Linked DNA regions of Homo sapiens. The protein of the gene in region 7 interacts with the protein of the main gene of each other region in a pairwise test. Each region holds a gene or a part of one and is shown on either strand. Other genes may lie near its edges. The genes, in order: SAXO1, RNF111, PLSCR1, HP, CAMK2B, PSTPIP1 and MVP.

Region 1 (4,318 bases), on a different chromosome or scaffold from region 7:
AAGGGCTTTTGGATAGTCTAGATATTTAAAATATAAGGATATATTTTGCTTAGCAGCTAATTTGACAGCCATTTAGAAACATTTTTCTTTCCTTTTAGAGAAACAACCAGAGAAACTTCAAAGTTACTTTGAACAAGCTGGTAAAGACAATAAAACAGAATAGTAGGGTATGCTATGCAGGGAGTACGTCTTTAATCCCCAGAGTCATTGTTTTGAAGACTTGCAAAGTTCAAAACTGAACAGCAACTTAACCTTAGTGTTTGTTAATGTCAGTATGAACTCACAAAGCCTAATAAATGCTGGACTCAAGTGTAGGCATCCCAGAAAGGGCAGAGAGCCTCCCAGAGTATAAGGAGTAGATGAAGTCTTTGCAAACCATTCTTATCATCAATATTTAATCAAGCCCCCCAAACACCAGATTACATCCCCCCCCACCCCCCCGCCCCACCGGAGTTAATTCTCTGCAGGGCATTTTTTATTACATGCAAGTTAGTAAACAATCCTAACTCTCTTCTCTAGGGTGCGAGCTCCACAGAGCTGCTGGCAGGATCTCCCACTCAGACTCAAGTGCTCAGGCAAGTACACTTCTTCATTCTTCATTGCCTAGAACAGACCTTTATGCTTATTTAATAACATCTACCTATGCCTTACTGTGGATGCACGCATTGTTCTACTTGCTTAATACTGATTCAATCCTCTCAATAACTCTGTTGAGTCAGGTTCTATCTCCCTTTTACTGATGAGAACGCTGAGGTACACAGAAATAGAAACTTCACTGTGAAATGGTTTAACATGACACAGTTAGGGAGCAGAAAGGCTGGGATTTGAACCAAGATAGGCTGGCTCCACAGTCTGCGCTTGGAACTGCAATACTCTGCCACTTCTCGTAGTCAATCATCACTTAATCATGTGTTAAATCAAGTTAAGAAAAGTGACAAGAATGGAATGGAGATAATATATCTTTAAGGAAATATTAGCAAACTACAAATCCACTCAGAAAAACCAAAACATTAACAGATTTAAAGTCAGCCTAATTCAGATATTGGGCATTTCTGAAGAAGAAAGAAGGAAGGAAGGGAGGGAGGAAAGCAAGGAAAGGAAAGAAAGGAAGGAAAGGGAGGAAAGGAACGAAGGAACGAACAAAGGGGGCCAGGCACAGTAGCTCCTCACACCAGCACTTTGGGAGTCCGAGGTGGGAAGATTGCTTGAGCCCAGGAGTTTGAGACTAACCTAGGCAACATAGTGACACCTCATCTCTATATTTTAAAAAAGAAGAAGAAATGCTACTCTTTAAGGCTTTTTTTTTTTTTTTTTTTTTTTTTTTTTTGCGGGGGAAAAGACTATTTATCTATGTTACTCTCCAGCTCAAAATCCATCCATGGCTCTTTGCTGGCGAGTTCACATTCTGAGACATGTAAGAGTCCCTCTGCAATTTGCCTCCAGCAAGCTTCCGGCACGATCTCCTGCAGGCTCAAGTACTCAGGCAGACATGATGTCTTCCGTGTCTCTCTGACTGCCCTGCCCTGCAGCAAGGGCAGCCGCACTAAACCCCAACATACCCTTTCCTCCAGGGCCTGTGCTCCTCTCCCGCCTAATCCTCACACCAACCTTAAGAATATCGCAAGGACAAAAAACCAAACACCGCATGTTCTCACTCATAGGTGGGAACTGAACAATGAGAACACATGGACACAGGAAGGGGAACATCACACACCGGGGACAGTTGTGGGGTGGGGCGAGGGGGGGAGGGATAGCATTAGGAGATATACCTAATGCTAAATGACGAGTTAATGGGTGCAGCACACCAACATGGCACATGTATAGATATGTAACTAACCTGCACGTTGTGCACATGTACCCTAAAACTTAAAGTATAATAATAATAAAATTTAAAAAAAAGTGGCAGAGCCAGCATTTGAAACCAGGCAGTCTCACTCCAGCTTCACTTTCCTCATCACTTCTCCATCCTAAAGCCTTCCCCGGCTACCCCATCCCAAAGCGCCTCTCCCACCCCTCACATCCTACATCACTTGTTTTATTGGTCTCATTCATCTAAGGGTAGCTGTTTCCACCCCTCCACCACCCATCCCGAGACATGTCATCTTTCCAAATAAACTATAAATCACCTGAAGGTCAGTAATAAATATTTTAATATCAATGGAGGGAATGACGTTTAAAACTGCCCACTACAGAACAGAATCAGAACATGTTACTCTGAACGGATCCATCTGCAGACTATAAGGTCGAATAGATCATGTTTACTGCTGTAATTGGAATATGAAGTTGTACTCTAATAATATCTGAAATTTGACATATACCCACTTGTACTCATTTTATAAGATGAAAGGTATTTATGAACAATTAAACATTAATTCTGATATCCAAAAAAGGCCATTTTTAAGGAGCATAACATAGCTTAACATGAAAAGTACATGAAATCTACAATAAAAATTCAATCTTAACGTGAAAGTTTTTCTTTTTTTTCTTGGCATCTCTATCTGGATTCTGCTAAAGATAAGTCATCAGCAAGTATCTGTTAAAGGCTGTTCTTTGTGTTTTTTTTCCTTAATCAGAATTTATGAAGTCAATTTTATTTAAATTAAAAATAAGAATTCTTCTTAAAACATGTAATATGAAACCAAGTCCTCAATTTTTTTTCCTTCCTCTTAATGTGTAACAGAGACTCTAAGAAAATAAAATCTAAGGTTAAGGAAATTTCCATCGATATGAAGAAAATATTTTCCAAAATTAAAATAACAAGTTCCTCCCTGGTTAACATAACTGATTTAAGTTGCAGATACATGGCTGCCCCTGAGATCACCTTCCTCCACAAGCTCTGTGAAAGGGCCAAATCCACATCCTTTTCAGCAATTTTTGAGTCCTCTATGGGACTACCTTTTTTATGAAATGCTGCACATACTACCAATGCTTCATAAATATTTCATGATACATTAACCAGTCCTGGAATTTCCTGCAAGATTGCACAAAATCTTTAAAATGGTGCACTGTAAGCTGTAAAATAATCAGATATAAAAGTAAGCTATATCAATCCCTTCATTAACAATTTTTTACAAGAATTTTAGAAAAAGTAGTGTTACTACATTTTAATCTCAGGAGGGAGATTTGCTATTTATATTACTTTACTAAAAGGCTTTTAGAATTACACTTTTTTTTTTATATCAGATACTATTTTCTCAGTTGGACCAGAGCCTTCATATTGTACTCTACAATCAAAAATGGCCCATTGTGGGAGTTGGGGGAACTAATTAAGTTGGTTAATGGATACAAAAATAAGTTGGATAGAAGAAATAAATTACAGTGTTTGATAATACAGTAGGGTGACTATAGTTATAATTTGCCATATATTTCAAAATAGCTAGAAGATTATTTGTAAGCTTCCCAATACAAATAAATGATCAATGTGTGAAGTGATAGATATGCTAATTACCCTAATTTGATTGTTACATGTTATATGAATATATCAAAATGTCACTTGTACCCCAGAAATATGTACAATCATTATGTATCAATTTTTTAAATGGTCCAGTGTGACTCGAAAATAGACCAGACTATAAATTTTAACACCTAGCAGTGTCTGATACCCAGTAAAATATGAATAAAATTTAATTGATTGACCTAAATTGTGCCTGAAGCTTAACATGTTCCCATATATTAAAATTAATCTCAATGTTTCTATTTCCTTATCTGTAAAATAAAAGAGCTAGAGACCACTAAGATCCCTTTCAGCTTTAAAAGTCTGATTAACGTTTTACTTTACAGCAACCCTGCCTTGCGCCACCCACTCCCCCACCTAACCACAGTTTCAAATTTAGTCATCTGGGAAAGAACAGCTCAATAGACTGAAAACATCGCCAGGGAAAAGAGAGGCTAAAATCAAGGAATCGAATTTCCAAACTAAGCAATGCTTCCCATGTTGAGGGACCCACAGTAAGATAATAATATATGGGAAAATACTTTTTGAATTTTCAAAATACTGTAAAGATGGAAGGTGGTTTAATATTATAAAATGCTGGGCCGGGCGTGGTAGCTCACACCTGTAGTCTGAGCACTTTGGGAGGCTGAGGTGGGTGGATCACAAGGTCAGGAGTTCAAGACCAGCCTGGCCAACATGGTGAAACCCCATCTCTACTAAAAATTCAAAAACTAGAAAAGAAGATGGCAACCGTGTGGGATGAGGCCAAGCAAGATGGAACTGGGGTGGAGGTGCTCAACATGTCCACGGAGGAGATCATCCAGCGCACATGGCTTCTGGACAGTGAGATCAAGATCATGAAGAGTTAACTGTTGAGAGTCACCC
Region 2 (4,318 bases), on a different chromosome or scaffold from region 7:
CACTATTGTAACTTCTGACACCACAGATTTGTTTTGCCCATAAAATACATTTTGAAACCAGTTCCTAAAAAGCGAGTACAACAGCTGTTTAGTAAGCAAGTATTTTCCCTCTCTACAAATGGGTTACAGAAATATATAATCTTACAGGTCTCCCATGTTACTATAGTATATAACTTTACTATCAGAACAAATGACAATAATTAAGGCATAGAATGACCTATTCCTACAGAAAGCTATCAAAACCACTATCTTCTTTTATTCTTATTCACAAGCACAGGCAGTGCTGTATCCAAGATCAGCCATCACGCGCTATCTGTAGTTCAGCAGGATCAGTGATAAACCAGGAATACAAAGATGAGTGAACATGAGCATGGCAATGAGCAAATTACAGAAGGCAGCCAGTCAGACAAGGATCACTTTAATTAAAGGCAAGAACACAGAAGTCACAATGATAAAACACAGGTACATGTGATCTAAGAGTTGAATGGGGCCAAACAGGATGGCTGTAATAAAGAACACAGGTAATAACAAGTGTTAGAGAGGATGCATAAAAAAAAAACATTGGAACCCTCATATATTGCTGATGGAAATGTAAAATGATACAAGCTACTTTGGGAAGCGGTCTAGCAGATCCTCAAAAATTAAATACAAGCTGGGCGCGGTGGCTCATGTCTGTAATCCCACCACTTTGGGAGGCCAAGGCGGGCGGATCACTGGAGGCCAGGAGTTCGAGATCAGCCTGGCCAACATGGTGAAACCCCATCTCTACTAAAAATACAAAAATTAGCCAGGATAGTGGCGCACTGACTGTAATCCCAGCTACTTGGGAGGCTGAAGCATGAGAATCGCTTGAACCTGGGAGGCAGAGGTTACAGTGAGCTGGGACTGCACCGCTACAGTCCAGCTTGAGCAACAGAGCAAGACTCTATCTCAAGAAAAAAAAAAAAATTAAACACAAAATTGCTATGTGACCTAGCATTTCCACTCCTAGGTATGTACCCAAGAGAAATGAAAACACATATTCATAAAAAAACTTATAAACAGCAACATTAGTCATAACAGCCAAAAAAGTGGGAACACAAATGCCAATCAACTGATGAATAAATAAATCCATACAAAAGATTATTACTCAGCAATAGAAAGAAATGAAGTACGGTAGTCCCTCACTATCCAGTTTAACTTTCCACAGCTTCAGTTACTCACACTATGAGAGAGAGACCACATTCACATAAGTTTTATCACAGTATGTTGTTAGAATTTTGCTACTTTATTGTTGTTGTTAGTCTCTTATTCTGCCTAATTTATAAATTAAACTTTATCATAGGCATGTAGGTATATGAAAAAAAAAACACTATATGGTTTCAGGCATCCACTGGGGGACTCAGAATGGTTTCCCCTTGGACAGGGGCGCAGACTACCATACTGACTCAAGCTACAACATGGATAAACAATATGCTAAGTAAAAGAAACCAGTCAAAAAGATAACATAATGTAAGATTCCCTTTATATGGAATGTCTGGAATAGGCAAATCTACATAGATAGAATGTGGTTACCTAGGGCTGGGGATCATCGGAGGATTCAACTATGATGGCCGAAAAGCATGGAGTTTCTGGCCAGGCGCGGTGGCCAAACCCTACACTTTGGGAGGCCGAGGCGGGCAGATCACCTGAGGTCAGGAGTTCGAGGCCAGCCTGGCCAACATGGTGAAACCCCATCTCTACTAAAAATACAAAAAATTATCCGGGCATGGTGGCGTGCACCTGTAATCCCAGCTACTCAGGAGGCTGAGGCAGGAGAATTGCTTGAACCAGGGAGGCAGAGGTTGTAGTGAGCTGAGATCACACCACTGCACTCCAGCTTGGACAACAAGAGTGGGGAAAAAAAAAAAAAAAGGTGGGCCAGGTGCAGTGGCTCACGCCTGTAATCCCACCACTTTGGGAGGCTGAAGCGGGTGGATCACCTGAGGTTAGGAGTTTGAGACCAGCCTGACCAACATGGTGAAAAGAAACCCTGTCTTACTAAAAATACAAAAATTAGCCAGGCATGGTGGCAGGCACCTGTAATCCCAGCTACTCAGGAGGCTGACGCAGCAGAATCGCTTGAACCCAGGAGACATAGGTTGCAGTGAGCCGAGATTGCGCCATTGCACTCCAGCCTGGGCAACAGAGCAAGACTCTGTCTCCCAAAAAAAAAAAGAAAAAAAGGTATAGAATTTCTTTTATTTTCAGTGAACTGAAAATGTTCTACAACTGATTGTGGTGCCAGCTATTCAACTCTGTGAATATACTAAAAACCCAGTGAAATAAAATCTCAATAAAACTCCTGCCAGAAAGTCAAGAGGTTTAAAAAAAGTGAAAAAGTCAAGAGGAAAAGTATCAAGATTTCTAGGCATCAGAGACTCCATCAGCAACAGAAGTCTCATGATGTATGTTGGAAACAGCTGGGGTTCTTCCAGAAACCCATGTCAGAGTTATGTTCTGGTGGATTTCAGAGGAGGAGATCTTGGAGTCTTTATGGGCTGAAGATTTAAAAATTAGACTCCTCATCCGTAATTACTAAGTCCTCATGTTGATAATGGAGATCATGAGAAGCAATGAAAACTTGCCAAAAACCAGACAAATTCTGAGAACATGCAGCCATACATTAATTTACAAAGAAGCAATTCACAGCACAATTAACTAAACCCAATTTCTTTTCCATCATTTCATGTCCCAAAGCCAAAACAATGCAATCAACTCTTTATGGTTAAATCTGCTCTGATTTTTGATCAGTTTAGTCTGTCCAATGAGACAAGGGTAGAGGAGAGCAAGGGGGGGTGGTTTGGTGTATGCTGTGGTGTGTGTTTGTACACCAGTTAACTCTTCTCTGAGTTAACATATCATGCAGTCATTAAATGCAAAATTAATATCCCATATAACTAAGAGGTTCCCACCCAGGGAGTAATTCATACTATTTTTTTTTCTAAAATCCATCGCTGTATTGTATCATGTTCTAAATTTTTTTTTCTAAAATCCATCCCTGTAATTGTATCAGGCTGTATTTTGAACTTAGAAGAGGAAAGTTCAAAAGGAAATAAACACAAGTATTGCATTTAACTTAAAAAGCAGCAAATATAACAGATAATATTCTAAATTATTTGCTGTTTGATAAAACCATATTCTAGTCTTTTATTTTTGTAAAAATTATTGGCTGATCTAATTTACAAAGGAGGCAAATGCGTACAAGATATATCTCCTTGGTGACATTATAAATGGCTTGCTGTTACACACTGTTTCAATACTGAAACCATAATACTAGTCCCTCTTTGTGTAGATCGATCCAATCATTTCATTGCTATGTCATGATGACTGCATGCTAATTACTCCTGATACTAGTGTAGAATACACCACTATTAGTAAACCTTGCACTAAGAAAATACGATAGCTAAAAAAAAATACTAACTTTCAAAACTAAAAATTAGGGTTGGGATTTAGTAATTCACATCATAAACAAGTTTATGTGAGCAAAAGGAGGAAAAACCCATTAAGACTATCCATACAACTCTGAGGAACTCTACTTCTAAACTGTGATACACTATTATTGGTATGATGCTTCACCACCAATTATAAATATGAATACTTGTTTCAACTTTAAATAAAAATGTAATGATTGCTTACATGACTCTAAAGAAATAAGATTTTAAAAGAAAAAAAAAAAGCCGGCCGGGCACAGTGGCTCACGCCTGTAATCCCAGCACTTTGGGCGGCTAAGGCAGGCAGATCACCTGAGGTTGGGAGTTCGAGACCAGCCTGACCAACATGGAAAAAACCCGTCTCCACCAAAAATGCAAAGTTAGCCAGGCGTGGTGGCACATGCCTGTAATCCCAGCTACTCGGGAGGCTGAGGCAGGAGAATCGCTTGAATCCGCAAGGCAGCGGTTGCGGTGAGCCGAGATCGCGCCATTGCACTCCAGCCTGGGAGACAAGAGCAAAATTCCGACACAAAAGAAAAAAGAAAAAAAAAAAGCCATAGATGACTTGGCATTTTTCTACAAAAGTTTTAGAGATTATCAGAAAATCAACTAGAAATATGTCTACCATTTAACTATCTTTTTAATATAATTAAGTGAAAAAAATAATACCTGTACTACAGGGATATCACTTGGGGTGTGTATTAAATTTTTAATTCTCTTATTTATTTTACTATGTGCCAGCTTAAGTATATTAAATCAAATGCCTGAAAGAATATTCTCTTCTACTACCTATAACTACTACTACTCATATCTAGATAATACAGACAATATGCTTTGTTACATATTCTAAATAGCCAAAATTTCAT
Region 3 (4,318 bases), on a different chromosome or scaffold from region 7:
TCAACTTCTGGGAGAAAGAAAACACATTTAAAACAAAAAAAATTCATATGGATGTGATGGAGAGAATGTATGCGAGCGAGGGCAGGGTATGAGGCAGTTACTTTGGGTAAATATAATTTATATCAAGGTCTAAAAGATGAGAAGAGAAAAGCTTTATATGAAGATTAGTGATAAATGCTTCAGGAGGAAAGAAAGGCAAATAGAATACCTCTGACTTTGTAATGAATTTGACAGGCGTAAAAGAGAGAGGAATGTCATAAGAAAGAAGACGACTAGGAAAGGCTGTTAGCAAAGCAACAGGAAGCTGTTCATCAAAGGAGGCCTTAGTAAGGAGTCTGGATTTGGTTCCAATTATGATTGGCAAGTACTGGAGGAATTTAAGCAGAAGAATGAGTTCCATGGTCTTATCTATATCTTACAAAATTTTCAGGAGTGGAAAAGCATTAGAATTTACAATGGAAAACACAGATGCAATCCCTGCCCATCATTGTTTAATGAGAGAGACAACTTTATATCCCCACTTATTCTAGGGAGCTATAATACCAGTGTAATTAATTGATTCATTAGAATTGGAGATAAATGCTTTCAAGTAAGAGACCACGGTTTTATGACTAGAGATGCCAAAGGTCGCTATTGAGATGGGAAGAGAAAAAGGGAAGGAGCAGGAACAGCTGCCTTGAGGGGTCACCTTTATGCTGAGATCTGAAGGATGCACAGGAGTTCAGGAGGCCAGAGTCACAGAAAGAACATTTCAGAGCAACGTCCTGGGACAGTAACTAACATAGGCCTTTAAAAATCTGAAAAATAGCCAGTCTAGCTGAATAACAGCAAGCCAGGCTCAAGAGGAAGTTAAAGAGAGAGCATGGAAAAGGCCATCCTGAGTTTAGTGTTAGCCTTTATCCTAAAAGTAATAGGCCACTAATAAAATAGGGGCTCTACACTCTCTGTAATATGAGCAGATTTACATTTTTAAAGATCACTGGGGTCAGCACAGAAACCAGACCATAGGCAGACCAGTGGGGATATGGAGATGTGAGTTAATTTCTTACATTTTTAACATCATCATAATTTTCCCCAGACTCTGAAAGTATGATGGATTACTCCTCAAATCAATGAATTAAGCATAAAGAATTACCTGAAATTTGAATACTAGTATCATTTATGTAAAGACTAATTGATTTAAAATATTTTAAATATGTTAGCAAATACTTGTCATTTATAATTTGCAAGCATTGTGCTCAGTGTTTTACATATACTCTCATTTACTCTACAAAGCAACCTACATTGAAAATATCACCCTTATTTATAGATAGGAACTCTGAGGCTTTGAGGTACTGCAACTTGTTTAAACTACCACATAACTATTAGTACAGAAGGCAGAACCTGGTTTACCAGCACATTTACCTATACGAATTTTTTTTTTAAAGTAGGCAGAACTTGAAGCCTGATACAAACTTCCTATGCCTCAGCTTTCCCACATACATAATGGGGATAACTGACAGTATTTACCTCATAAGAGTATTCTAAGAATTAAAAGTGTTAGTCCACATTAACTCCACATTTAAAACAATGACTAAAGCATGGTAAGATCTCAATTTTAAATTATCCTTACTCTTAGCATCGTTATCTTAAGACTTGTGCTATATGTAATCTTGGACTTGAGAAACAAAATCAAGCTGTAGAGCCATATATATCTATATATATAAACAAACTCTCAAGTCTGATTATATCTGAACTGTATTATTTATGTATATCTACTTTTAATTAGTGATAGGGTGGATTAAATCATTCTCTTAAGTGCCTTGGATGAATATTATAGACTTACTAATGATTTTTCAAACACCAACCCTATAAGAATTTAGAGCAGATGTTCTCAACCCTGGCTTCACCTTAGAATCACTTGGGGTGTTAAAAGATTACTATTCCTTGAGTCCCACCACTGGAAGCTATGATTTAATTTTTCTGGAATAGTGCCTTTGCACTACTATTTTTAAGTGCTTCTGGGTGATGATACTTCAGTGCAGACAAGGTTGCCATGAGCCACCACTTGAGAGTCTGAGCTTATCTAGCTCATATTCTTTCAGTTGCAAACATCTGGATGAGATCCGGGACCCGCAGGGAGGTTTCTTGCTAGGCAATTAAACATGACATTCAGCTCCTAAGCACATTTGTTTACTCAGAGAAGAAAACACAGTGGGTACATCCTTCTATCCAAACCACATTCCCTTTGGTCCTAAATCCTCAGGATGCTCTTTCAAGATGTGGGTAGCCTGTCTGCTTGTAAATCTGGACATGCCATGGACTTTGCTATTTTTAAAGTTCTAGTAGTTTTGATAACTGCATTTGCCTAAATGAAAATCTCTGAATTCTTTCAGGCATTGGTTGAAAAGAAAAAATGTACTCAATTATGTATGTAGTCAAATGACTCAATTACTTTTCTTAGAAATACAGGGTGGAATCAGCATATATATAAAAATAAAGCTTTCATATACATTATAAAATTAAAATGAGAATTATTCCCAGGTAACTGAATTTCTATTACTTTCAGTTTTAAGCAGTCTTACTATTTTGATGTGACTCTCACTGAACACATGCCAAGCTACTACATGACTCAGTTTATCAGAAATAAATTTCCTAAATGTGATTAAATGATCATAATTTTCAGAACAGATGGAGGATCAATAAAATATTTTACTTAACATTTGTATTTTAGGATGTACAGTCTTGTATTTCATTTGCTAAATGTAAACCTAATGTTGTTTTTACTAGCTTTCTTTATACCTTTACTGTCCTCTATAAATAAAAATTACTTCTGTGCAAAATGATAGCCAAATAAAAATAATCAAGAACAACTAGGCTGCCAAAATTTCATTAATATAATTTTAAAAAAAGAACTACTAAAATAAAAACAAATGCACAATTCTCTCTCTCTCTTACTCTCTCTCTCCCACTCTCACTCTCTCTCTCTGTCTCTCAATTAATTTTACTTTTTCTTCTTTCAGCAACTGCTTTACCTTGGAATGCTGTCGGTGGATACTGAGGAGGATACCCAACTGGCAAGTTTGTTTCCGGGTGAGAAGCATTCATCTGTGAGTCTGCAATTCAAGGAGAGGTAAATAGATGTCTGATTAAATAAAATATATATTAGAAAGAAACAATGTATTGTACTTAGATAATTGTAACTTGTATGTTCTTATGCTGTATTGAAATAGGGAAAGTAAAATTTTCACTTAACGTAAGCTGTGCCTGTTCTCAGAGCTAATTTGCAACTAGCAAATTTGTTTCAAACAAATTCTCCTTTAGATAAAATGAGACAGTTAAGTTACTGGGGCTGAATTACCAGTTTTTGAAACATCCCTGATGAATGTTCAGTTCCATGTTTTGTTGATAATAAAACAAAGATAGCTTTAAAATTACATACAGACTACGAAGAAAGAGATAAATGAAATTAATGGGATGTGAAGATGGTAGAATTATGGATGATTTTAAAGATATCTATCATCATTGCTGTAAGTATTATTTTAAATATTTAAAATAATGAATATACTTCAGTATTTATATATGTTATGCTTACTCTGGAACTACACCAATGAAGTTGAACCATATGAAATTCCCCAAATATGACTGTTTTTGACCCACAAAAGCCATGTTTAATTACAATACACTAGCATATTAAACTTTGTTATTTGCTAATAAGGCTTGAGTAAACTTAATATATGCACAAATGGTTCAACCTCCTAAATATTAATATTCATGTCTATCTAGTCATTCGGTTACCTACCGCAGCCAGTCTCTAAATATTTACTGAGCATGTCCTGTGTCACCCTTGAATTAGGCTCTGTGGCTACAATGGCTCTGCTTTCATACAGCTTAAGGTGCAGTAGACACTACACTTATCTCCTTATCTGTTTCCTTATGAATTACTAACTGTAAATTCAAAGTCTTTTGTTTTAGAATCATGGAGACATGGCATCAATATAGAAGAACATATAGGTCAAACTTTCACTGTAACACATTTTTCTGTATGTGTCTCTATTATGAACTTTCAAAGACCACTCAACTTGTGAATCGTGTGGTTTTATCAGGAAGATTGGATTGTTTCCCCCACCCCCTGCCCCGGCCTTTCTCCTTCATAAATAGCTTCATGATGACTTCAGCGGAATCCAGTCCATGGTGATTGTGTAAAATCAGGCAAAAAAACCGCTCTCCTACTCGTTCAAGACTAGCCTGGCCAACAAAATGAAACCCCATCTCTACTAAAAATACAAAAATTAGCCAGGCATGGTGGCACGCGCCTGTAGTCCCAGCAACTCAGGAG
Region 4 (4,869 bases), about 42 Mb from region 7:
TGACATCAGTGTCGTTTTACACCCTACAAAGGAGGGGCCGTATTTTGGCATGAGAAGAAGGTGCACTGGTGATTGGTGGTATTGAAAGCTTATAGCAAGAAAAAGTTCTGTTAGAAGAGCTTCTGTTTCTCAGAGTTCCAGAACCTTTCTTCTGGGAGACCCTTAATAGCATGACCTGCCATCAGGAGAGGAGGCTCAGACAGCCTGCATTTGATTCCTGGTGCAGGGTGGGTTTGTTCCCAGTAGGAAAAGCAGCTTCTACTGATGCAGGGACTCTACCTCCCCACTCTTTATGGAATACCAGAAGGTTATTGCTGATAGGGACATTAGCCATCGCCTGGCTCAAGTCCTTCATGGAAGAGACCAGGAACTGATGGCCAGGAAACCTAAATTACTTAGCAAATTTATGGGCCATTCTGTGATTTGGACTCAGTAAGTCCAGAGATCCTGCCTTTACATCATTGTCTTTTGTTTTCTGGAGTGCTGGTAGGTTAGATCCCAAACTCTGAAGTACTGTCTGTGTTAAAACACTTTTTCCCCATCCCATTTTGAGCTAGCCTCTTCCTCAACCAGGCCCATGCCTTTTCTCCTAATTCACTTTGAGGAGGCAACAGCATGCAGTGAAAGGACCTCTGAGTTTGTATCAAACAGACCTGGGTTCAAAGTTCTGCTTCCCTGTTTCATAGCTATGTAACCTTAAGCAACTCACTTACCATCTCTGAGTCTCTGTTTCCTTGTCTGTAAAACAAGGACAACAGTTAACTTTCTGGGACCTAGCATTCAATAGGCACTCAATCAGTGAGCATGATTCCCTAAGGTGGAAGAGTTTGTATCACCTTCGGGATTTCCAGTGGGTTTAGGGTGTTTTCTGCCATACTCCCAGTAGACTCTATACCTTCTGACTACCCTGGACCATAAAGGAGCAAATAAAAAAGACTCAAGACTGAACACAACACAGAAATGGGTCAAAAGAAAGCTCTTTATTGATTGACTCAGCAATGCAGGGCTGGCACCCATCAGCTTCAAACCACATCTTATCGCATCCACTCCTGTCCACTCCCGTCCACTTTGCCCTCTTCCAGGCTGAAATCTTGCTTTCAGGCAAGGGCTTCCGGCCAGCCTTGCATTAGTTCTCAGCTATGGTCTTCTGAACCCAGTCCTGGATGGAAGTCACCTTCACATACACACCATACTCAGCCACAGCACAGCTCTTATCAAAGCTTAAGATCCCAGTCGCATACCAGGTGTCCTCCTCCAGGTCGTGAACGGCAAAGGCACTGCCCGCATCGCCATAGCAGGTGTCTTCTTGGTACTTAGACATGCCAGCACAGAAGGTGTGTTCATTCAGTATGGGCTGCACCCCTACAGGGCTCTTCGGTGTCTTCTTTTCGGGGACTGTGCTGCCTTCATAATGCCTTATGCATTGGTCTTGGTCAGCCACAGGCAGCATGACATACTTCAGATGGTCAGTAAATTTAAAATTGGCATTTCGCCCCCAGCCAGAAACATAACCCACACGCCCTACTTCTGCATAATCCTTTGAAGGTAGGCAGATGGGCATCACTCTCTCATTAACAGACACCTTCTGTTTGAGTTTGATGAGCCCAATATCTACCTGGGAGTAGTTAGGGTGTAGAACAACCTTCTCAATCTCTACAAGCTGCTTTTTCCCCACATAGAGTGTTAAAGTAGGGGCAATGTCTTTCGCTGTTGCATTTTCTGAATGGTTCAGGAAGAGATTTTTAGCCGTGGTCAGCAGCCATTGTTCATTGATCAGCGTGGCACCTGTGGTGAGATTATGGTGGGAAACCATCTTAGCCTGCCAGGGAAAGCTGCCTTTGGCATCCAGGTGTCCACCCAGGATCCGCTGCACTGGGTTTGCCGGATTCTTGGGCTTCCCACATACTGTCAAGGAGAGCAAGACACTCGTGAGTGGAAATGTGCAAGAGCCTTTCCATCTGAGAAAGGGGTGAAAGCATGGGCGGCTGTCACTGCTGCGTAAAGTAGAAAGATTTAAATGCTTTGCCCTTACCACCTGCTGATCTCATTTCCAATAGTTGCAGTTTTAAAATAATTCTGTTTTTTAAATTGTTTACATTACAAAAAGCTCTATTTCCCACTTTTCTAACAAAGGAAGTGGGAAATACTGAGATTTTTGAGCCCTGGCTGGTGAACTGTATTATATTTAAACAATTATCCCAATAAAGGAATTTCCACAATTCCCTGAAATTCATTGAAAGGGCTAGGGGCTACAATAATTCATTCTCTCTAAAGAAAGATGAATCTAGAGCAGCACTGGCTGGAGCTCAGATTTTGTAGATGGTGCAGTTAATACGAGGCAGGTTGGCATTTCCACACCAGTAAGAGCAGAAGAGGCTGGGCCTTTGCCTCTTGTTCTGAGAATGAAAGGAGAGAGCAACAGCTCCTCCTAATAACGAGAAGCAGGAGTTCCAGCCCATGTCCAGCCTCCTGCTAGGCTTCCATGGATTAAGATTTTATGTCATTCCTTGACTTGTTCTCCCTGGAGCTTGCTTCTCCTTAGACCCAGGGCTCTCTAGCAGGCTCTCTGTATGCACAGGCTCTCCTAATCTGTGGGCGATGTAGACAATGGATTCAGCCAGTGCCCTTCAGGCCCTAATGAACAAGACCCTTGGTGACCCTTAGGGAGTCATCACCTAACTGCTTAAGTCTCTCCCTGGCCAGCTGCGGTTCTCCCACATCCCTCCTCCTGGCTCTTGTGTGCTCAGAGGAAGCCGCACTGGAAGGCTGTGCCTCTAGGACGTTCCCCGCTGGACGCCTGCCTGCTCTCTTAAGTGCTCAGCACCCACCTGCTTCACATTCAGGAAGTTTATCTCCAACAGCCTTATTTATCCACTGCTTCTCATTGTTTAAGGTGTACACTCCTGAAACAAAAGGCAAGAAGTGAGCCAAAGGAGAAGTCAAGTCTAGACCCCGTGCAGAGTGAGAAGGCATTTAAAGAGAAGAACTAAAAGGAAGAGGAAAAGGGGACAAAAAGGAAGGGGAAAAGGAGAGAGTATATGAGAAGGAGGAAGGGAAAGAGTGCTGTGCTGGAAGCCAAGTGCCTGGATGCCAGTTAAGCCCAGCAGAACACACTGTGGTCATGGCGGTCACAGCCAAGCAGTACAGGGAGGGCTCAGGGTTCAAATCCTGACTCTGCCTCTTACAGGCTGCCTGAATTTGGGCAAGATACTCAACCTGTCTGTGCCTCAGTTTCCTTATCAGCAAAGTGAAAACAATAAACTCTGTTCAGAGGGATACTGTGAGGACTAAGTGAGCAAATAAGTATAAAGCCCTTAGAGCAGTGCCAGGACAGCAAGACTCACTAGGTGAGGGTGACATCATCATCAGCATTCCTTCTTTTCCCACATCTGCTGGAGATGTAAATGTGACTCTGAGATTTACATGAGGTAGGCTGCATGGCATCGCCTCCCCTTAACAAAACAGAAAACTTGAGGCTGACAAAAGTTAGTCTGCCCAAAGGGCCATGGCTACTGGCGACAAAACGCTTATTAGAATCTAAATCTCCTGGCTCCAAGGAGAGCAACGAACTTTCTGGCGAATCACCTCAGCACCACCCATCATGGAAATGTCAGAGAAGGGGGTTGTATGTAGGGCATGGAGACAGTTGTCCACATCTTACCATCTCCTTCTGTGCGCAGTTTGTAGTAGTTCTTACACTGGTAGCGAACCGAGTGCTCCACATAGCCATGTGCAATCTCGGGGGGCTTCGGGCAGCCGTCATCTGCAAAGAGAGAGAAGCCAGAGAGTTTGCTATTTGGAAATTGTTCCCAGTGAACCGTGAAAAGTCAGATGAGCGGGAGCTGCTCTGCACATCAATCTCCTTCCACCCCGAATAGAAGCTCGCGAACTGTATTATTTTTAAACAATTATCCCAATAAAGGAATTTCCACAATTCCCTGAAATTCATTGAAAGGGCTAGGGGCTACAATAATTCATTCTCTCTAAAGAAAGATGAATCTAGAGCAGCACTGGCTGGAGCTCAGATTTTGTAGATGGTGCAGTTAATACGAGGCAGGTTGGCATTTCCACACCAGTAAGAGCAGAAGAGGCTGGGTCTTTGCCTCTGGTTCTGAGAATGAAAGGAGAGAGCAACAGCTCCTCCTAATAACGAGAAGCAGGAGTTCCAGCCCATGTCCAGCCTCCTGCTAGGCTTCCATGGATTAAGATTTTATGTCATTCCTTGACTTGTTCTCCCTGGAGCTTGCTTCTCCTTAGACCCAGGGCTTTCTAGCAGGCTCTCTGTATGCACAGGCTCTCCTGATCTGTGGGCAGTGCCGACAGTGGATTCAGCCAGTGCCCTTCAGGCCCCAATGAACAAGACCCTTGGTGACCCTTAGGGAGTCATCACCTAACTGCTTAAGTCTCTCCCTGGCCAGCTGCGGTTCTCCCACATCCCTCCTCCTGGCTCTTGTGTGCTCAGAGGAAGCCGCACTGGAAGGCTGTGCCTCTAGGACGTTCCCCGCTGGACGCCTGCCTGCTCTCTTAAGTGCTCAGTGCTCAGCACCCACCTGCTTCACATTCAGGAAGTTTATCTCCAACAGCCTTATTTATCCACTGCTTCTTATCATTTAAGGTGTATACTCCTGAAACAAAAGGCAAGAAATGAGCCAAAGGAAAAGTCAAGTCTGCACCCAGAGCAGAGTGAGAAGGCATTTAAGGAGAAGAATTAAAAAGAAGAAGAAGAAAGGAGGCAGACAGGAAGGGAGAAAGGAGAGAGAATATGAGAAGGAGGAAGGGAAAGAGTGCTGTGCTGGAAGCCAAGTGCCTGGACACCAGTTAAGCCCAGCAGAACACACTGTGGTCATGGCGGTCACAGCCAAGCAGTAC
Region 5 (4,318 bases), on a different chromosome or scaffold from region 7:
GTACGGGAAGCAGGTCCGTTGTGAGACCCACCCACCCATTCCACAGATGGGAAGCCTAGGCTGCCCCTGCCCTGCGGAATGGCGCTGCCCAGACCCCAGCTCAACCCAGCCCCCACTCTGCCTCCCCACATAGCACATGGGAGCTTTTGTGTCCTTGATATCCAGGCCCCTGAAGAAGGGCATGATCCCTGATGGAGGGAAAGGAGGGGGGCCCAACATGAAGAGGTGCCCGGGTCGGGAAACCTGCTGGCTGAGGACAAGCTGTCCTGGCAGTTCCAGAGACAAAGGGGAGGTGGTGGGCAGGGCCTGGGCTTGGAGGGGTCTGCACGAGCCAAGAGCCTCTGCAAGTCAGGCCTTCCAGGTGCCCTGACATGAACAGGAGCCTTTGCATTGCCTGTGGCTCTCTTGGGGTGAGGCAACAGGTCCAGGCAGGCCTAATGCGTCCAGGTGGGGTCAGAGCAGGTTCTCATCCTGGCCTGGACTCCTGGGACCCCAGGCTGGCCCCAAGCCCATCTCTCAGAGCCAGAGGTGGCTGCGGGAGGGAGGGCAGCTGCCCAGGGATCAGGCTGGATTGTGTATAATCCGCGATTAGAGAGCGTGGGTGGGGAGGAGACGGGGCCTGAGGCGGGCCGTGGGCACCTGCCCTATTTACACAGCTGGTGGGTGCCTTCTGGAGAAAGGAGGTGGAAAGGAGGCAGAAAGCTGGCCACCTGCCACCTGGGCCCAGGTGCCCCCAGGGCAGTACCCAGACTCTTCCTTTCCCTGAGTTCCGGAACATCTCACCCACCCCTTTCCCAGCCCTGCCCAGCCCCTCCCAGGAGGGCCACACGAATCTCCATCCTGCCCTGCTCACAGCTCCTTCCTGCAGCCCCCTCCTCCCCAGCCAAGCTCAGGGAAGACTCTGGAAGGGCAGGTCTGTGCTGTGGCCCCTGAAGGTGAGCCTGGACACCGAGCCCCGAGCTGGCCACTCCACACCCACCCTGGGCCCTGTCCTCAGAGGACTCACCCCAGATACTGCACAGACCTTGAGGGCAGGCTGCAGTCCTGGGCTGGGGTCATGCCAACCTGATGGGGTGACCTTCCAGGCAGGCTCCTTTGGGCACACCCCTCCACTTCTGCAAGGGCAGCAAGCCCCTTAAAATCAGATGAGCTGCTGTAGAAGTGGCAGGTGTCGGGGGTTCTGACCACTCCCAGAGGCTCTGCGGTGCACCCACCCCAGCTGCACGGCGGCCCCTCCCCATGCCTCCCTCCTTGAGTTCTGGTCGCCCAGGCACCCCGACCCTATCAGCATCAAGAACCTGGCCTCTCCCCTCAGCTGCTTGCCTCTGATCCCCTCAGTCAACCCCTGCTGGGGGTCCTCAGCCGACCACAGAAGCTCTGGGGGTGAGTACCCCTCCAGGGGCTGCCCCCTGCTCTCTCGGGCACCCAGGGTGGATCCAGTGCCCCTTTGAGCCTGCAGCCTGCATCCCCCTCCTCGAGCCGCTGCTCCTGTGGGTTCACTCTCCCCACACCCTTCTGCCCTGGCCGCCTGCAGCAGCCCCCAGGCCCAGCCTGCAGAGGGGACGGTGGCAAGCAGACCCCACCTGTCCCTCAAGTACTTACCTAGCCACTGCCCTGCCATGCCGAGCCCGTGGCCCAGCAGCCTCTTCTCTAAGAGTATCTCCACACCACCCCCAGTCTGGTGTCTCCCCACAGGTGGGGGTGGCAGCAGCCCTGGGATGTCATCCATCCCTGTAAGTGATACTGCGGGTAGTCGGCAGACAGACCGGGAGGTGGCCCAGCCTGGCTCCTCCCTGGCCGGGGAGGCTGCCCAGCCTGTGCTTCCTGTCCCGCCCGCTCTGTTTCAGCCTGGCCCCAGCTGCCCCCCAGATCCGCGCCTCCCGATCCCCACCTGCTCCCTGCTGTCTGGACTTGGACAGCTCTAATGCTAGAGCGTCTCAGGCCGGGACTGACACTTTTCTGTCCCGGCCCAGCAGGTCCACCTTGACCCAAGCCAGCAGCTCCTGGCGTGCTAGCCCTTGCCACACGCGCAGACCCTTTGCCACCCATTCCCCTCCCATCAGGAGAAAGCTGTGGACCTCAGGGTTGCGAATGCTGGGGTCGGCAACAAACCTGCTCTTTCGGACGCTCTTCCTATACACATATGTCATACACACTTCATAACCATAACCTCCATTTTCTGAGACCCAGTGGCACCTTCATGTGCTTCAAAGCAATTCCCTGGGACCCAGCAGAGGGATCCTGTGCCCCGCCCTCCTCCGCAAGAATGGCCCTTCCCAGAGCACCACTGCCAGGCTCGCACGCCCCGAGCCCCTCCGGGCAGCCGCTGCCACGGCCACTCAAGGTGCTACTTACATGGGGTGGGCAGGGGGCCAGGGATAGTCGGAGATGGGCAGGGCGGGGGCCCCACTGGCGAGGGGCCCTCGGCTTCTGGGGTCCCTGAGCCCCTCCTCACAGAGTTCAGGATGTCAGAGATCCTGGGGGCTGGGGCGGAACAGACGAGACGTGAACACAAGGCAGGCACGGGGGGCACGCAGGAGAGAAACCATGGGCAGACAGCCAAGCCAGAGATTGAGGGGCACAGAGGCAGATGTGGGGGATGGGGCACAAGGGGACAGAGGGGAGGAAGGGAGAATGGGGGGGTGTGGGGGGAAGATGGTGGACCTGGGCCGACAGAGGGGATATAGGGGAAAGAAGGGGATGTGGGGGATGGAGGGGAGCTTGGGGGACAGAGAGGGAAACGGGAAATGGAGGAGACGTGGGAGACAGAAGGGAACGTGGGGGACAGAGGGGCATGTGGGGGGACAAAGTGGGGGTGTAGGGGATGGGGGGCATGAGGGGACCAAGGTGGGTGTGGGGGACAGAGGGGGGTGTGGAAGACAGAGGGGGTGTGGGGGACAGAAGGGGTCATGGGGGATGGGGGTGCGTGAGGGGACCAAGGTGGATGTGGGGGACAGAGGGAGTGTGGAGGACAGAGGGGGATGTGGGGGACAGAGAGAGGTGCAGGGGACAGAGGAGGGTGCAGGGGACAGAGGAGGGTGCAGGGGACAGAGGGGGATGTGGGGGACAGAGGGGAAGTGGAAGACAGAGGGGGTGTGGGGGACAGAAGGCGGTGTGGGGAACAGAGGGGGAGGTGGGGGACAGAGGAGAGTATGGGGGACAGAGGGGGTGTGGGGGACAGAAGGGGGTGTGGAAGACAGGAGGTGTGGGGGACAGACGGAGTGTGGGGGACAGAGGGAGAGTCTGGGGGACAGAGGGGGTGTGGGGGACAGGAGGGGGTGTGGAAGACAGAGGAAGTGTGGGGGACAGAAGGGGGTATGGGGGGCAGGGGGTGGAGGACAGAGGAGGGTGTGGGGGACAGAGGGGGATATGGGGGACAGAGGGAGTGTAGGGGACAGAGGAGGGTCTGGGGGGCAGAGGGAGAGTGTGGGGGACAGGGGGTGTGGGGGACAGAGGGAGTGTGGGGGACAGAGGAGGGTCTGGAGGACAGAGGGAGAGTGTAGGGAACAGAGGGGGTGTGGGGGACAGAAAAGGGCGTGAAGGGACCAAGGTGGGTGTGGGGGACAGAGGGGTATATGGGGGACAGAGGAGGGTGTGGGGGACAGAGGGAGAGTCTGGGGGACAGAGGAGGGTGTGGGGGACAGAGGGAGAATGTGAGGGGCAGAGCAGAGTTTGGGGAGGAAAATGGAAATGAGGGAAAGAGGGGAATTTGGGGGACAGAGGGGGATGTAGGGATAGAGCGTGGACTTAGGGGGACGTGGAGAGGTTGTAGGCTGACCGAGGGGGATATGGGGGGACGGAGGGAGACAGGGGGACAGAGGGTGCTGCTGCGGACAGCGTGGTGCGTGGAGAGGAGGCTGCAGGAGTGAAGGGCAGATGCTCTGGCTGTCGGGTGGCGTGGGCTGAAGCTGCTGGGGGCAGAGGGCACCCTCCAGGGAGAGGCTGCTGGCCAGCAAGAAGCTGTCAGGTAAGTGGCCCTTGAGGAACGCTGGACGGGGTTACAGGGAGAGGAGGGAGTCACGGGCGTTACAGAGGAGGCCTGGCCTGGCCCCATGAGGACAGCCCAGGTCAGCAGAGGCCAGGCTTATGATTCTCCGTACTATCCCCTTGTTGGTGAGCTCCAGAGACCCTGGTCGGGGTTCCAGTTTTGGCACCTTCCTCAGCCTCCTAGACTGAGGGAGGGTGCTCAGGGGTTGGGGCCACATCAGGAACCAGGGTGGCCCTGAGTGCAGCTCCTGGGCACCATGGGCAGGGCCCCTGGGTGGGTGTGAAGTCTGTGGGGCTGGGACAGTGATCAGCAGAGAGGGCCTAGGGGCAT
Region 6 (4,318 bases), on a different chromosome or scaffold from region 7:
CTCTGGTTGGGCAGGAGCTTTTTCACACAGGAAGGAGGGACCCCAGAATGGCCTGGAAGGGTCAGGGCCTGTGGATGGGGCCCTGCTGGAAACCAGAGCCTGCACTGACTTTGTGGAAGGCCTTGCAGCCCAGCAAACTGCTGTGGCTTTGAGGGCCAAGGAGGCCAGTGGCTGAGGAGTGGCCCTGGTGCACTCAGAGCTTGCAGACAGTGCAGGAGGTGGGAGAGAGAGGCCCTGGCCATCCTGCCTTTGCTGCCACCAAGTACCTTCCCGGCACCTGCCTGGCTGCATCTGTCAGAAGCAGTGAGGACGGAGGCTCTCCCTTTCCTGATTGGGAAAGCTCTTTAAGACCTGGTGTTCCCTGTAAAAAGCAGAGAGCCTGGCAGTGCACCTGGTCGGCAACCCGTTGTGAAAAGTGGGGAAATAAGCATTTATACTGGCGCAGGCTTGTAGTATTAACAACAAAAATCTGTGGACGGATGCACAGGGAGCTAATTAAAGTGGTTGCCTGTTGGGAGAATGAGAGAAAGGAGATGGATGAGGGATGAGGCTGAGCGGCTGTGAACGTTTTCAGGATTGATGTTTTTATACTGTTTGATTTTTGAACCATATGAATGTATTAATTATTCAAAAATTAAATCAAACAATTAAAAATGAAAAAGAGGACATTTATTTCAAGTCCCATGAAGAATTTTTCCCTGAATCCCAGCTACTTACATCATCCCCTGAGGAGCAGCAATGCTGCCATTTGCTGAGTGCCTGTTCCATGCCAGGCATGCTGCCATTCAGTCCACATGCCCCCAAACGCATTGTCAGTGTCTTCCTGACTCTGTGATGGGACCTAAGGCACGGCAGGTCTAGGCCCAGACGAGGGTCACCTGTGCAGGGTAGAGCAGGGACTCCCACCTAGGTCTGTCGAACTCTATTGCCCTCTGCCCTGAATTCTAGAGAGTTTGTTCTTGCTTCTACTTTAATTTGTGTAGGATGAAAGGATGCTTCCCTACATGTTAACACTGGTGTCTATGGATTTGGAAGTAGGATTCTCTCCATCCCCCATCTAATTTTCTGCAAGTCAATACAGAGTACCTTTGTCATTAAAAAGAAAATATTTAAAAAGAAAACTAAGCAATTCCTGCTTTCAAGAATGAGTTGGTGTTTCTAGGCCAAATTTGTGGTTTGCTAGCATGCCCTTTTCCACATGCTCGGTGCATATTTTGTGGTACGTGGGCCTCTGGGGACCAAGAACTTCGTTCATCTGTGCCCATTCCACAGGACGTGGCCGGCTGCTCAGGTGTTAGAAGATTGCAGAGGTTTGTGGTCATGCTTGCTTTGCTTTTGCGATGCCTGCAGATGGTCACTGCCAGGATTTGCTGGCTGCAGGGTTCTGGGTCGATTTGGTGTTCTGAATTCAATTTTATTCTTGATAAAAAACAAGATCTGCTTCTTGATGACCCACTTTGTGCTCCAGTCCCCTGGAACCCACATGCTTTTCCTGGCTGCTCCTGACATCTACACAGAACTAGGGCAGCCCCTGGGATGGAGAAGGAGGGCCTTGCTTTGGGCTTTGAAGGGTGGGTGAGGATTTGAGACATGTCAGGAGGACAAACGGCACTCAAGGTGGGAGGTACGGCATGGGCAAAGGTGTGGAAGGGGGTTTGGAAGACAGTTTTCTGGCCCAGAGCATTGTGCAAGGTGACTGGTAGGAAGGGAAGGCACGAGCTGGATTGTGAAAGGTCTCTGCCCTAAGTGGTGGCAGAGATACTTTCTTCTGCCTCTCTGCACCCTCTCTGGTGGTGGCTGTTTCCTCTCATGCAAAAGAGGACAGAGGCTGCGGGCTGTGAGTGGGATGCCCTTCCTCCTCACCCAGAGCCTGGCTGACGCTGCAAACCACATGATGGAGGGAACTTTGGGTGGAAACCAAGACTGCCTCTGCTTCCAGCTAGAGAGCATGATGCCCTGGGCCCTGGGCTGCCCACACCAGGACTCTCCTCTGGGTTGGCTCTGGAAGGTTCCTCCCTCACAGACTCAGTCATGCTCCATCCTCCAGGCTTAGAAGGAAATCGGCTTCTTGGGAGGCCGAGGCGGGTGGATCATCTGAGGTCAGGGGTTCGAGACCAGCCTGGCCACCATGGTGAAACCCTGTCTCTACTAAAACTACAAAAAAATTAGCGGGGCATGGTGGCGCATGCCTGTAATCCCAGCTACTCAGGAGGCTGAGGCAGGAGAATCGCTTGAACCCAGGAGGTGGAGGTTGCAGTGAGCTGAGGTTTCACAATTGCACTCCAGCCTGGGCAAAAGAACGAAACTCCGTCTCAAAAAAAAAAAAAGAAGAAGAAGGAAGCGGGCTTCTTTGAAGCCTCACCCAACCCTCACCCACACTTGCTAGGTGGCCTTGGAGAATCATTTTCCCTTTCTGAACCTCAGTTTCCTCATCTGCAGGATGTCAGGGTCGTCATCACTTAAGATAAGGGCTTTGAGGTTGGGGCGGCTCAGGGCAGTGCTAAGGGACCACCTCCTGCTCACCACAGTGGAGTAGCAGACCAGGAACAGTTCCCAGGGGACCCAGATTTATAATTGGATATGCACCCATAGGGTGAGCCTTATACATAGATCTTGCTGTTTCAGAATGCCTCCTCCAATCATGTTCACCATTGCATGTTATACTCCACCATTAGAGAATCATTCCTTTGGTTTCAAGTAACAAGATGATCTATGTTATCTCACTTAATTCCAACAATAGTCCTGTGAGGTCAGTATTCTTATTCCTGTTTTACAGAGAGGAAACTGAGCCTCTTGGAAGGAATGTGGGCCTGGGGGATGCCACACAGATGGATCGGACTGGGCTGGGCCTGGATGCCACCTTCCCAGGTCTGGGTCAGAGAGCCCTTTGCAGTTAATGGGAGGGTGTGTTGGTTTGCTGAGGCCTGGCACACTGAGCAATGGGTGATGGAACAGGCAGGAGAGCGACAGCTCCTTCCACTGGTGTTGACAGGCCACCCACCATTGGGCAACAGGAAGTGCCAGCTGGAGCCCTGGAGACCAGCAGCCAGTGTGGGGATGTGGTGGCCAGATGGAACTCAGGGCTTCCCAGCTGTGGAAACAGGAACGGGAAACAGCCACACTGGGGAGGAAGTCAGGGGGTGATGGGCTGAGGCAAGAGCATGCCTGCGTGGCTAGAGAGAGTGACCAAGGTGGAGAGTAGTTGGAGATAAGGTAAGAAATAGAACAGTGGCCAGGCGTGGTGGCTCACACCTGTAATCCCAGCACTTTGGGAGGCTGAGGTGGGAAGATCACTTGAACCCAGGAGTTCAAGACCAGTCTGGGCAACATGGTGAAACCACTTCTTAAAAAAAAAAAAAAGTACAAAAATTAGCTGTACCTGGTGGTGCACACCTGTAGTCTCAGCTACTTGGGAAGCTGGAGTGGAAGGGTCACTTGAGCCCAGGAGTTGGAAACTGTAGTGACTGTATGATCGCACCACTGCACTCCAGCCTGGGCAACAGAGCAAGACTGTCTCAAAACAAACAAACAAACAAACAAAAAAAACAAAGAAAGAAAAGAGAAGCAGAGAGCCAGATCTTGTAGGACTGTCATTCTAAAAAATCCCAATGCCCAGGCCACACCCCAGGTCAATTACACCCCGATTTCTGAGGGTAGGACCTGGACATCAGTATTTTTCAAAGTTCCCCAGTGCCTCCATGTGGAACTTTAGCTTGAGAGGCATCAACATAGATAATTGTGGTAATTAATTACCATTGCTGGCCAAGCATGGTGGCTCATGCCTATAATCCCAGCAGTTTGGGAGGCCAAGGTGGGCAGATCACCTGAGGTCGGGAGTTCAAGACCAGCCTGGCCAACATGGTGAAACCCTGTCTCTACTAAAAATACAAAAAATGTAGCCAGGTATGGTGGTGCATGCCTGTAATCCCAGCTACTTGAGAGGCAGAGGCAGGAGAATTGCTTGAACCTGGGAGGCAGAGGTTGCAGTGAGCCAAGATTGTGCCACTGCACTCCAGCCTGGGCAACAAGAGCAAACACTCAATATCAAAACAAAACAAAACAAAAATTACCATTGCTGACAATAGGCATACATCTGGTTTTTACCATTTTCCTGACCTCATTTGACTCACCTGAGTGAGCAGAGGTTAGAAGTTTTGGGGGTGGTGGTAATTATATGTAACATAAAATTGACCATTTTAACAATTTTTAAGTATATGATTCAGAGGCATTAAGAACATTCACTATTTCCTGAACTGCTTCATCATCCTGAACAGAAATTGTACCCATCAAACAATAACTCCCCACCCCTTCACCGCAT
Region 7 (4,318 bases):
AAGCAGTTCTTGGCAAAGGTAAGGTCAGGATGGGCTGTGTCGTCTTGGGTGGGGTGAAGACAGGGAGCAGTGGGCATGCAGATGCGGACAGGGAAGGGTGCAGTGGCCTGGCTGGAGGAGGTAGGGCCGTATCCCACCCAGAGTCTGTCACCAGATTCATGCCTGCCCCACCCCAGGCTCCCCAGGTTCATCCTGTGTCGTCTCCCCCACCTACCAGTCATCTTCTTGTGAGCCCTGGGCTTAGGAGTCACCATGGCAACTGAAGAGTTCATCATCCGCATCCCCCCATACCACTATATCCATGTGCTGGACCAGAACAGCAACGTGTCCCGTGTGGAGGTCGGGCCAAAGACCTACATCCGGCAGGACAATGAGAGGTGGGTGTGGGGGCTGGGCTGTGGGGGATCCTTGGGGATGTGGGGGCCTGTTTGGCTGGCATGATGGTCCTTATCCTCCTCCCTCTTCCCAAGCAGGAGTGGCCCTCGCTTGGGCGATAGAGAGGTTTCTCTCTCATTTGGTGTCCTCTTTGGTAGTGGAGACCTGGTCCCAGGTCCTCACACCTCTTCTCATCTTCCTGCAGGGTACTGTTTGCCCCCATGCGCATGGTGACCGTCCCCCCACGTCACTACTGCACAGTGGCCAACCCTGTGTCTCGGGATGCCCAGGGCTTGGTGCTGTTTGATGTCACAGGGCAAGTTCGGCTTCGCCACGCTGACCTCGAGATCCGGCTGGCCCAGGACCCCTTCCCCCTGTACCCAGGGGAGGTGCTGGAAAAGGTACCTGGTTTCCTCACTCCCTATGCCCCACCCTACCTGTCCTCCACCTGCCTTGGGCTCTATACTGCTGCCTTCTTCTTCTTTTTTTCTTTTCTTTTTTGAGGCAGAGTTTCACTCTTGTCGCCCAGGCTGGAGTGCAGTGGCATAATCTCGGCTCACTGGAAGCTCCACCTGGGTTCAAGTGATTTTCCTGCCTCAGCTTCCTCAGTAGCTGGGATTACAGGCACCCGCCACCACGCCCGGCTAATTTTTGTATTTTTAGTAGAGACAGGGTTTCACCATGTTGGCCAGTCTGATCTCAAACTCCCGACCCCAGGTGATCCACCTGCCTCGGCCTCCCAAAGTGCTGGGATTACAGGCATGAGCCACTGTTCCCGGCCTGTACCGAGTTCTAAAGGGAAAACAAACCAGGGCAGTGGGAGGGGTGGGGAGAGACACTTGCTGGCTCTCACCAAGGGTGGAATTGACTCACTGTACCTCCACTCACCTCCAGCCACCCCCATCCTCCACACATGCCCCAAACACACCTGCCTCTTTTCTGAGAACTGTTGGCCCATCTCACCTTCCCAGGCTCCAGAGCCTACCAGAAGTGCCCAGCCAGTCTGGCATTAAATGACATGTGCCAAGGTTAAGCAGTTCATTCACCCGGTGCCAGACACTGGTGGGCAGTGCCAAAGCAGCAGTGACAAGCCCAGGCCCCAGGCTGTGCCTGTTCTAGGAGAAGCCATCACAGGCCTGAACCTACAGCCAGGCTCTTGTCCCCGTTGGCCTCAGGCCTGGGCCTGAGCAGGTGGGTGTCCCACCTTCATTCCTTTACCTGTTCTTCCACCTTTACCTTCTGGCCATTTAATGGTTTTGGGTTTTTTGTTTGTTTGTTTGTTTGTTTTTAATAGAGACGGGGTTTCACCGTGTTAGCCAGGATGGTCTTGATCTCCTGACCTCATGATCCGCCCGCCTCGGCCTCCCAAAGTGCTGGGATTACAGGCATGAGCCACCGTGTCCAGCCCCATTTAATGGTTTTCTTACTGACTTTACTAACCAGTGCTGCTTGATCCTGAAAGCATAATAGCAGAACATGGGGAACTTTTAGAGACATTCATGTCCACTTAGGTGCAGACAGTTTGGGGGAAGAAGTGTGTGTGTAGAGAGAAAATGAAGAATGATTAAGACAATAACCCTTAAGGAATCCAAGTGAAAAGTATATAGGGATTCTTGTACCTTTTTTTTTTTTTTTTTTTTTTTGAGATGGAGTCTCACTCTGTTGCCCAGGCTGGAGTACAGTGGCATAATCTCGGCTAACTGGAAGCTCTGCCTCCCAGGTTCACGCAATTCTCCTGCCTCAGCCTCCCGAGTAGCTGGGACTACAGGCGCCCACCACCACACCCGGCTAACTTTTTGTGTTTTTAGTAGAGATGGGGTTTCACCGTGTTAGCCAGGGTGGTCTCGATCTCCTGACGTCATGATCCACCTGCCTTGGCCTCCCAAAGTGCTGGGATTACAGGCGTGAGCCACCGCGCCTGGCCTTTTTTTTTTTTTTTTTTTCTGGATCTCCCCCTGTTGCCTAGACGAGAGTGCAGTGGGGTGATCATAGCTCACTGCAGCCTCAACCTCCTGGGCTCAAACGATCCTTCCACCTCATTCTCCCAAAATGCTGGGATTGCAGGTGTGAGCCACCAAGCCCTGCCTAAGCTTTCATTTTAAATATGTTCAGCCGGGCACAGTGGCTCACGCCTGTAATCCCAGCACTTTGGGAGGCCAAGGTAGGCAGATCACTTGAGGTCAGGAGTTTGAGACCAGGCTGGCCAACATGGCGAAAACCCATCTCTACTAAACATACAACAATTAGCCAGGCGTGGTGGCATGCGCCTGTAATCCCAGCTACTTGGGAGGCTGAGGCATGAGAATTACTTGAACCTGGGAGGCGGAGATTGCAGTGAGCTGAGATTGCGCCACTGCGCTCCAGCCTGGGTGACAGAGCAAGACTCTGTCTCAAAAAAAAAAAAAAAAATTAGCTGGGGGTGGTGACACACCTGTAATCCCAGCCACTCAGGAGGCTGAGACAGAAGGATCACATGAGCCTGGGAGATTGAGACTGTTGTGAGCCATGGTTGTACCACTGCAGTCCAGCCTGGATGACATAGGAAGACCCCATCTCCAAAAATAAAAAAAAGCCAGCTCTTCCTTTGAGCCCCAGTTTCAGTTCAAAGGGCCTTCTCTAACTTCTCCTTCATCTGAACTCCTGAGACAGGGTCTTGCTCTGCTGCCCAGGCTGAAGTGCAGTGGTGCAGTCATAGCTCACTGAAGCCTTAACCTCCTGGGCTCAAGTGATCCTCCCACCTCAGCCTCCCGAGTAGCTGGGACTACAGGTGTGCGCCGCCACCATGCCTGGCTACACTTTTTTTTTTTTTTTTTTTTTTTAGAGATGGGATCTTGCTATGTTGCCCAGGCTGGTTCTTGAATGTCTGAGGTCAAGCAATCCTCCTACCTCAGTCTCCCAAAGTTCTGGGATGACAGGTGTGAGCCACTGTGCCCGGCCTCCACCCCAGTCTTATTTCAGGACATACAGAGATGGATGTTGTGGACCCGCCTCCAGAGCATCAGGCTTGGCCCTGGGGTCACAGCACTGATGGTTCTGTGTCTCCACCTTCTTCCCCACTAGGACATCACACCCCTGCAGGTGGTTCTGCCCAACACTGCCCTCCATCTAAAGGCGCTGCTTGATTTTGAGGATAAAGATGGAGACAAGGTGGTGGCAGGAGATGAGTGGCTTTTCGAGGGACCTGGTAAGTTCTGTCTCCATAGGGCTCCCTGCCTTCCTGTCATAGCCCTGATACCTTCTGACCATCACCTTCCCTCCCCAGGCACGTACATCCCCCGGAAGGAAGTGGAGGTCGTGGAGATCATTCAGGCCACCATCATCAGGCAGAACCAGGCTCTGCGGCTCAGGGCCCGCAAGGAGTGCTGGGACCGGGACGGCAAGGAGAGGGTGACAGGTGGGGTCACCAAGGGGCGATGATGGTGGGTGGGCAGGAGGGGTCCCCACTGCAGGGGAAGCAGGGGAAGGTTGAGGAAAGCCTCCTGTAGCCCCAGAGAGGCGCTTTCCTGGTATCTTTTGAAAGCTGTTGAGGGCCACCCACTGCTCTTCCTTCCCCACCCCCGCTTCATGCTGTTTCCACTTGGGCTGGAAAATGTGACCATGACCATGCGGATGTGGCTTTTCCTTCCCTCACCTTCACCATGAGCTGTGGGCAGTGGCCATGACTTACCTGATTCTGGATCAACAAAGAAGATGTTCAAATACAATTGACAAATGTAGGCCAATAGGTACAGTGGCTCACACCTGTCATCCCAGCACTTTGCCAAGGTGGGTGAATCGTCTGAGCCCAGGAGCTTAAGACCAGCCTGAGCAACACAGTGAGACCCCATCTCTACAGAGAATTTAAAAATTAGCCTGGCCTTGGACACACACCTGTGGTCCCAGCTACTCAGAAGGCTGAAGGGGGAGAATTTCTTGAGCCCAGGATGTGGAGGCTGCAGTGAGC

The links.
Region 1: the proteins of MVP (region 7) and SAXO1 interact in a two-hybrid assay, tested with the Homo sapiens proteins (one large-scale study listed by BioGRID).
Region 2: the proteins of MVP (region 7) and RNF111 interact in a two-hybrid assay, tested with the Homo sapiens proteins (one large-scale study listed by BioGRID).
Region 3: the proteins of MVP (region 7) and PLSCR1 interact in a two-hybrid assay, tested with the Homo sapiens proteins (2 studies listed by BioGRID and IntAct).
Region 4: the proteins of MVP (region 7) and HP interact in a two-hybrid assay, tested with the Homo sapiens proteins (one large-scale study listed by BioGRID and IntAct).
Region 5: the proteins of MVP (region 7) and CAMK2B interact in a two-hybrid assay, tested with the Homo sapiens proteins (one large-scale study listed by BioGRID).
Region 6: the proteins of MVP (region 7) and PSTPIP1 interact in a two-hybrid assay, tested with the Homo sapiens proteins (one large-scale study listed by BioGRID).

The regions. Positions count from the first base shown.
Region 1 is NC_000009.12:19,022,716-19,027,033, forward strand, and holds part of SAXO1 (stabilizer of axonemal microtubules 1), read right to left. Parts: intron 1-4,318. UniProt on the Homo sapiens protein: May play a role in the regulation of cilium length. Stabilizes microtubules at low temperature.
Region 2 is NC_000015.10:59,025,412-59,029,729, reverse strand, and holds part of RNF111 (E3 ubiquitin-protein ligase Arkadia), read right to left. Parts: intron 1-4,318. UniProt on the Homo sapiens protein: E3 ubiquitin-protein ligase. Required for mesoderm patterning during embryonic development. Acts as an enhancer of the transcriptional responses of the SMAD2/SMAD3 effectors, which are activated downstream of BMP.
Region 3 is NC_000003.12:146,530,456-146,534,773, forward strand, and holds part of PLSCR1 (phospholipid scramblase 1), read right to left. Parts: intron 3,096-4,318; coding exon 3,015-3,095; intron 1-3,014. UniProt on the Homo sapiens protein: Catalyzes calcium-induced ATP-independent rapid bidirectional and non-specific movement of phospholipids (lipid scrambling or lipid flip-flop) between the inner and outer leaflet of the plasma membrane resulting in collapse of the phospholipid asymmetry which leads to phosphatidylserine externalization on the cell surface.
Region 4 is NC_000016.10:72,057,148-72,062,016, reverse strand, and holds the end of HP (haptoglobin isoform 1 preproprotein), read right to left. Parts: intron 4,626-4,869; coding exon 4,551-4,625; intron 3,764-4,550; coding exon 3,662-3,763; intron 2,904-3,661; coding exon 2,829-2,903; intron 1,906-2,828; coding exon 1,127-1,905; 3' UTR 962-1,126; downstream 1-961. UniProt on the Homo sapiens protein: As a result of hemolysis, hemoglobin is found to accumulate in the kidney and is secreted in the urine. Haptoglobin captures, and combines with free plasma hemoglobin to allow hepatic recycling of heme iron and to prevent kidney damage.
Region 5 is NC_000007.14:44,224,161-44,228,478, forward strand, and holds part of CAMK2B (calcium/calmodulin-dependent protein kinase type II subunit beta), read right to left. Parts: intron 2,485-4,318; coding exon 2,356-2,484; intron 1,732-2,355; coding exon of another isoform or gene 1,603-1,731; intron 1,154-1,602; coding exon of another isoform or gene 1,056-1,153; exon of another isoform or gene 1,025-1,055; intron 1-1,024. UniProt on the Homo sapiens protein: Calcium/calmodulin-dependent protein kinase that functions autonomously after Ca(2+)/calmodulin-binding and autophosphorylation, and is involved in dendritic spine and synapse formation, neuronal plasticity and regulation of sarcoplasmic reticulum Ca(2+) transport in skeletal muscle.
Region 6 is NC_000015.10:77,001,342-77,005,659, forward strand, and holds part of PSTPIP1 (proline-serine-threonine phosphatase-interacting protein 1), read left to right. Parts: intron 1-4,318. UniProt on the Homo sapiens protein: Involved in regulation of the actin cytoskeleton. May regulate WAS actin-bundling activity. Bridges the interaction between ABL1 and PTPN18 leading to ABL1 dephosphorylation.
Region 7 is NC_000016.10:29,830,298-29,834,615, forward strand, and holds part of MVP (major vault protein), read left to right. Parts: intron 1-176; exon of another isoform or gene 177-217; 5' UTR 218-252; coding exon 253-377; intron 378-580; coding exon 581-776; intron 777-3,435; coding exon 3,436-3,559; intron 3,560-3,637; coding exon 3,638-3,769; intron 3,770-4,318. UniProt on the Homo sapiens protein: Required for normal vault structure. Vaults are multi-subunit structures that may act as scaffolds for proteins involved in signal transduction. Vaults may also play a role in nucleo-cytoplasmic transport.